Linked DNA regions of Homo sapiens. The protein of the gene in region 2 interacts with the protein of the main gene of each other region in a pairwise test. Each region holds a gene or a part of one and is shown on either strand. Other genes may lie near its edges.

The links. The genes of interacting proteins can lie anywhere in the genome.
Region 1: the proteins of SKIL (region 2) and ATP1A3 interact in binary tests that used the Homo sapiens proteins (3 or more experiments, as listed by UniProt).

Annotation. Positions count from the first base shown.
Region 1 is NC_000019.10:41,973,601-41,977,349, forward strand, and holds part of ATP1A3 (sodium/potassium-transporting ATPase subunit alpha-3), read right to left. Parts: intron 2,967-3,749; coding exon 2,816-2,966; intron 2,198-2,815; coding exon 2,029-2,197; intron 1-2,028. UniProt on the Homo sapiens protein: This is the catalytic component of the active enzyme, which catalyzes the hydrolysis of ATP coupled with the exchange of sodium and potassium ions across the plasma membrane.
Region 2 is NC_000003.12:170,360,608-170,364,356, forward strand, and holds part of SKIL (ski-like protein), read left to right. Parts: coding exon 1-822; intron 823-3,749. UniProt on the Homo sapiens protein: May have regulatory role in cell division or differentiation in response to extracellular signals.

The sequences.
Region 1 (3,749 bases), on a different chromosome or scaffold from region 2:
CCCTGTCCACCCCATCTGGGCAGGACCCTCACTATTATCTATCACAGCGGCCTGCTTTCTTCGGGGCATATATCACAATTTGTAATTACATATCTGTTAACTTGTTTAAGGCTGTCTCTCCAGCCCTGTGAGAACAGGGATGGTGTCTGCTCTGCTCACAGCTGCCTCCCAGGCTTCCAGCATGATGCACAAGATTCGGAAGGAGCAGACGGCTGTATCTGAGACAGTGTGTGTACTGTGTATGCATAGATGTCTTGGGGAGGCCAGGCGTGGTGGCTCATGCCTGTAATCCCAGCAAATTGGGAGGCCAAGGTGGGAGGATTGCTTGAGCCCAGGAGTTGAAGACCTCGCTGGGCGAGGTGGCTCACCCCTGCAATCCCAGCACTTTGGGAGGCCAAGGTGCGGGGATCACTTCAGGTCAGGAGATCAAGACCAGCCTGGCTAACATGGTGAAACCCCATCTCTACTAAAAATACAAAAATTAGCCTGGTGTGGTGGCATGCACCTGTAATTCTAGCTACTCGGGAGGCTGAAGCAGGAGAATTGCTTGAACCCAGGAGGTGGAGGCTACAGTAAGCCGAGATTGCATGCCTGTACTCCAGCCTGGGTGACAGAGCAAGACTCTGTCTCAAAAAAAAAGAAAGACTAGTCTGGGCAACATGGCGAAACCCCATCTCTACAAAATCTTAAAAATCAGCCAGGTGTGATGGTGCATACCTGTAGTCTCAGCTACTTAGGGGCCTGAGGCAGGAGGATCGATTAAGTCCCGGAGGTGGAGGCTGCAGTTAGCCGTGATTGTGCCACTGCACTCCATCCTGGGTGACAGATTGAGACTCTATCCCCGCCCCCAGCCCCCAAAAAAAGATGTCTCTTGGGAGATAAGAAGGTGTTAACCATGGTTTCCTCTGGGATATAGGAGACAAGGGCTGAGGACATTTAATCTGTTACTCTGGGCTCGGCTTTGCCGTTTGAATTCTCTTTTACCATGAACTACTTTTTACACCAGAGACATTTCAAATAGGAGAGAGAAATTGGAAGAAAATCCACCAAGGCATGAACCGTGATTATTTCTGGATGGCGAGGTTACGGGTGATTCTACTTTTTTCCTGAATGCTTTTCTGCATTTGTCTATGATTATCATGAATTAATTTGATGATCAAAATAAATCTGAATGTGAACCAACCCTTCTGTGGCCTTGTCTGGGCCTGTCAGGAGGTGGTGCCTGTCGGCTCAGCAGCACCAGCCTCAGACCCAGCCCCTCACACCGCCTTGCCTGTGTACCGGTTCCTCTGCCTGCGACTCCCTGGCACTAGTCTATGTGGACGTCACAGCATGGCCCCTGACTTGGCTCAGCCATCCCTGTCCACTCTGGGAAGCTCCCTTGACCCCCAGCCCAGGCTGGCAGAGGGGGTATCCCCCAGGGTCCCTGGCTTCCCCCTGGTTGGGCTTGAGAATTTTTTTTTTTTTTTGAGACGGAGTCTCGCTCTGTCCCCCAGGCTGGAGTGCTGTGGCGCAATCTCAGCTCACTGCAACCTCCACCTCCTGGGTTCAAGCAATTCTCCTGCCTCAGCCTCCCGAGTAGCTGGGACTACAGGCAACCGCCACAATGCCCGGCTAATTTTTTGTATTTTTAGTAGAGACGGGGTTTCACCATGTTAGCCAGGATGGTCTCGATCTTCTGACCTCATGATCTGCCTGCTTCAGCCTTCCAAAGTGCTGGGATTACAGGCGTGGCTGCCGCCCCTGGCTGAGAATATCTTTAAAAAGCCTCCAAGTCAGCTTCACCCACCAGATGGGGCCTGGGCTGGATGACGCAGGGACCCTGAAGTGTGTCAGCTCAGTCCTGCCCAGGGGAGCTCCCGACCCCACAGGGGAGGAAGACAGAAAAGGACAGGCTCAGGCTCCTCCAGGGCCAGGGGGCCTGTGGTCTCTGCCACACATCCCCCTGCAGCCCTGGCCAGTTCCCCTTGCTGGTCTCAGGCCTCCGGTAGTGACCCTGGTCTCCAGGGCCACCCCTGGCCAACTCACCCTCCTCCACCCCTGTGACGATGGAGGCAAAGTTGTCGTCCAGCAGGATCATGTCAGCTGCCTGCTTGGAGACGTCAGAGCCAGCGATGCCCATGGCCACCCCAATGTCGGCCTTCTTCAGAGCGGGGGAGTCGTTCACACCATCCCCGGTCACAGCCACAATTGCACCCTGGAGGGAGAGAGGGTAAGGATGACACCCAGAGGCCAGTCCCCAGAGTCCCCTCCCTCAGATCCAGAAGCCCAGGACCCCAGCCCCCTCCTCCTTCAGACCTAGAAGTTCAGGTCCCCAACCTCCTCTTCCCCTCAGACCTAGGAGTTCAGGCCTCCAGACCTTCCTCCCTCAGACCCAGGGGTCCAGACCCCCAGACCCTCCTCCCTCAGACCCAGAGGTCCAGGCCCCCAGCCTCCTTCTCCCTCAGACTCAGCAGTCCAGGCCCCCAGACCCTCCTCCCTCAGACCCAGGGGTCCAGGCCCCCAGCCCCTCCTCCCTCAGACCCAAGGGTCCAGGCCCCCACCCCCTCCTCCCTCAGACCCAGGAGTTCAGGCCCCTATCCCCTCTTCCCTCATACCCAGAAGTCCAGGCCCCCTCCCTCAGACCCAAGGGTCCAGGTCCCCAGCCCCCTCCTCCCTCAGACCCAGGAGTCCAGGCCCCCAGACCCTCCTCTCTCAGACCCAGGGGTCCAGACCCCCAGCCCCTCCTCCCTCAGACCCAGGAAACCAGGCCCCGGCCTCAGTGAGGACCCAGGAGTCAAGGCCCCGTCCCCTCCTCTGCGGGAGCGCAGCCCACCTGTCTCTGACAGCCCTCCACAATGATGAGCTTCTGCTGGGGGGATGTGCGGGCGAAGACGATCTCGGTGTGATTCTGCAGGATCTCGTCGATTTGCTCGGAGGTGAAGTCCTTGAGGTCGGTGCCGTGGATCACGCAGGCCTTGGCATCCCTGGGAAGAGCAGAGAGAGCGATGGCTGAGGTCAGGGTGTGTGAGGAGTGGCAAAGTGATCCCTGAAAGACAGAGAAACAGAGGGGCCAGCCCCACAACCAGGAGAGCCAGAGGACCAGGGGCTGGGGGAAGAGGCCTCTGGGAGAAGCAGGGGAGAAGGGGGCTACTGCAGCAGGGCGTGCGGGCAGACCTGAGGAAGGACTTTGGGGCAGTGGATTTATTTATTTATTTATTTATTATTTATTTATTTATTTTTGAGATGGAGTCTCGCTCTGTCACCCAAGCTGGAGTGCAGTGGCGCAATCTCGGCTCACTGCAACCTTTGCTTCTTGGGTTCAAGTGATTTTCCTGTCTCAGCCTCCCTAGTAGATAGGATTACAGGTGCCCACCACCACGCCTGGCTAATTTTTTTTTAATTTTTAGTGCAGATGGGGTTTTGCCATGTTGGCCAGGCTGCTCTCGAACTCCTGACCTCAAGTGATCCACCCACCTCGGCCTCCCAAAATGCTGGGATTACAGGCGTGAGCCACTGCGCCCAGCCAAGACACAGTGGATTCAGAGGAACGGAGATAAATGGACAAGCTGAAGGAAGGCAGAGTCAGAGATAGGTATGAGGATGGGAAAGTTGAAGAAGTCAGAAAAACAGAACAGAAAAGAGAGACAATGACAGACAGACAGGAAAAAAGAGAGACAGACACAGAAGTACTGGATTCTACTGAATCCTCTGAGATAGGAATTATTAGTAGCCCATTTTAGAGATGGGCAAACTGAAGTTCATGGATG
Region 2 (3,749 bases):
TTCCATTTAAGTAGTCAGAGCTCGCTGGGTGGACCAGCAGCATTTTCTGCTCGGCATTCCCAAGAAAGCATGTCGCCTACTGTATTTCTGCCTCTTCCATCACCTCAGGTTCTTCCTGGCCCATTGCTCATCCCTTCAGATAGCTCCACAGAACTCACTCAGACTGTGTTGGAAGGGGAATCTATTTCTTGTTTTCAAGTTGGAGGAGAAAAGAGACTCTGTTTGCCCCAAGTCTTAAATTCTGTTCTCCGAGAATTTACACTCCAGCAAATAAATACAGTGTGTGATGAACTGTACATATATTGTTCAAGGTGTACTTCAGACCAGCTTCATATCTTAAAGGTACTGGGCATACTTCCATTCAATGCCCCATCCTGTGGGCTGATTACATTAACTGATGCACAAAGATTATGTAATGCTTTATTGCGGCCACGAACTTTTCCTCAAAATGGTAGCGTACTTCCTGCTAAAAGCTCATTGGCCCAGTTAAAGGAAACTGGCAGTGCCTTTGAAGTGGAGCATGAATGCCTAGGCAAATGTCAGGGTTTATTTGCACCCCAGTTTTATGTTCAGCCTGATGCTCCGTGTATTCAATGTCTGGAGTGTTGTGGAATGTTTGCACCCCAGACGTTTGTGATGCATTCTCACAGATCACCTGACAAAAGAACTTGCCACTGGGGCTTTGAATCAGCTAAATGGCATTGCTATCTTCATGTGAACCAAAAATACTTAGGAACACCTGAAGAAAAGAAACTGAAGATAATTTTAGAAGAAATGAAGGAGAAGTTTAGCATGAGAAGTGGAAAGAGAAATCAATCCAAGGCAAGTTTTTTATATCAATTTTTAATAATGGTAATGGTTTACTTTGAAATGAAAATTCTATGTTTAGTGTGTAACTTAACCTGTATGTTGAACATTGCTCATGCAACAACAACAAAATACCGATTGATATATTTGTATTGCAGTTTTTAGGCCATAAAGTGCTTTGCAGTATGTTTCCTCATTTGACTTTCCAAACATCCTGTGAGAGAAGTAAGACTATTATTCCGTTTTACAGATAAAGTGAATGAAGCTCAGAGAGATAAAATGACTTTCCCAAAATTATGTAGCCAGGGAGTGGAGGAGTTAGGGCTTCTTTTTTTTTTTTTTTTGTGCTTTTAGTAGAGGCCAGGTTTCAGCATGTTGGCCAGGCTGGTCTTGAACTCCTGACCGCGTGATCCGCCCACCTTGGCCTCCCAAAGGGCTGGGATTACATCCTTGAGCCCCTGTGTCCAGCCAGGGCTTCTTTTTCTTATCCTCTTTGGCACACATCTTGCTTCTTGACCACTACATCTGTTGTTTTTCTAGGACTCGATAATTTGCGCTTTGGTGTTATCTCCATTTGCAAATGGTACAATGGCCACAATTCCCGTGGGCTCAAAACAGCATTTTTCAGAGATACACCTATGATTTCTGATGTTTCTATGTTTGGATATTCAGGCTTGCTCAATATTTGAAACAAATGGAAAAGACATGTATCTGAAGAATTTGTGATTTGAAAGGAATAACAAAAAAAATGACAGCTAGAGTAAGGAAAAGTTATTTTAAACTAATAAAATATTAATATAAAAACCTGCCGGGCTCAGTGGCTCACACCTGTAATCCCAACACTTTGGGGGGCTGAAGTAGGTGGATCACCTGAGGTCAGGAGTTTGAGACCAGCCTGGCCAACATGGTGAAATCCCATCTCTACTAAAAATACAAAAATTAGACGGATGTGGTGTCGCACACTTGTAATCCCAGCTACTCAGGAGCTGAGGCAGGAGAATCGCTTGAACCCCGGAGGCGGAGGTTGTAGTGAGCCGAGATTGTGCCATTGCGCTCCAGCGTAGGCGTCGAGGGAAACTCCATCAAAAAACAAAACAAAACAAACAAACAACCTATCAACAGGTGGGAGCAATGAATGGCTCACAATCCCAGCACTTTGGGAGGCCCAGGTGGGCAGATCACTTCAGGTCAGGAGTTTGAGACCAGCCTGGCCAACATGGTAAAACCCCATCTCTACTAAAAATACAAAAATTAGCCAGGCATGGTGGTGTGTGTTTGTAGTCCCAGCTACTTGGGAGGCTGAGCCAGGAGAATCGCTTGAACCTGGGAAGCGGAGGTTGCAGTAAGCCGAGATCACGCCACCACAGTCCATCCTGGGCGTCAGAGTAAGACTCCATTTCAAAAAAAAAAAACACAACCACCTATCAGCCAAGGTATCATAATTTTATTTTTCCTGCTGCATTATCTAGTAGGCTAAACTATTATTTTCATTCCAAGGTTTTGAATGCCGAGGTAATGGACAAGATTGGGATTATTAAATATTTAGTTTCTTGATCGGGTTGTTTTATATTTTTTCCTATTTGACTAAAATTAATGTGTAATAACAGTTCCTAACACTAAGTGTTTAAAATGTGGCAAACATTATTCTTGAGCAGTTTTACATATATAATTTTATTTAATTCTTAACAAGAGGTTGGCTGTGTTTCATTTAGGAACTTTGAATTTTTCCACTATTAGTTTTGATTCCTTGAAATATCCTTGCCCATTTCTATTTTACAGAAGAAATGAATAAAGCATATTAAATGACTGACTGAAGGTTTATTCACAGCAAAGTTAGAGCTTGGACTAGTCCTTAAGACTTGGGATCCTGAGCTTTATTCTGGTGCCTTTAAGGTTTTGAGGGAAATTTAGTTAACAGTGTAGTTTAAGACATTGGTTAAGCCTAATGAAGATAATAATTTTAGACTCATTTATGGTAGTTTGCTGCTTGCTGCTTCCAGAAGACCAGCACTTTGAAATTTCTTGCCAGTGGCTGCTAGATAAGTTTATATTCTTCAGGTGTAGTTATTAACTGATTTTTTTTTTTTTGAGACAGAGTTTCGCTCCTGTTGCCCAGGCTAGAGCTCAGTGGCGCGATCTTGGCAGATTGCAGCCTCCGCCTCCTGGGTTCAAGTGATTCTCCTGCCTCAGCCTCCTGAGTCACTGGGATTACAGGCATCAGCCACCACACCCTTTAATTTTTGTTATTTTTAGCAGAGACTGGTTTCGCCATGTTAGCTAGGCTGGTCTCAAACTCCTGACCTCGGGTGATCCACCCGCCTTGGCTTCTCAAAGTGCTGGGATTACAGGTGTGAGCCACTGCTCTCGGCCTATTAACTAATTTTAAATCAGGATTGACTTCAAGCCAGTGCTCAGTGTAGAACTTGCTTACAGTTGGACTTGTCCCGTGCTGAAGTTTGTGCTCAGAGATTATATTTCAAAATGTGGAATGCCCCTTTTGATATTTGTGATATCTTGCCCCCAAGCTAATTAGGTGCTGTACTTTTTTTTTTGTAGAGACAAGTCTTGCTCTGTCGCCGAGGCTGGAGTGCAGTGGCACGATCTCGGCTCACTGCAACCTCTGCCTCCTGGGTTCAAGCAATTCTCCTGCCTCAGTCTTCCGAGTAGCTGGGACTTCAGGCGCCCACCGCCATGCCCAGCTAATTTCTTTTGTATTTTAGTAGAGAGGGGGTTTCACCATGTTGCCCAGGCTGGCCTCGAACTCCTGAGCTCAGGCAATGCGCCTGTCTCTGCCTCCCAAAATGCTAGGATTACAGGCGTGAGCCACCATGCCCAGTGGTGGTCTACTCTTACATGTCTGTTGGAGGCCACATTTGCCAGATATTGTTGCTCCCGTCTTTTTTTTTTTTTTTTTTTTTTTTTTTTTGAGACAGAGTTTCGCT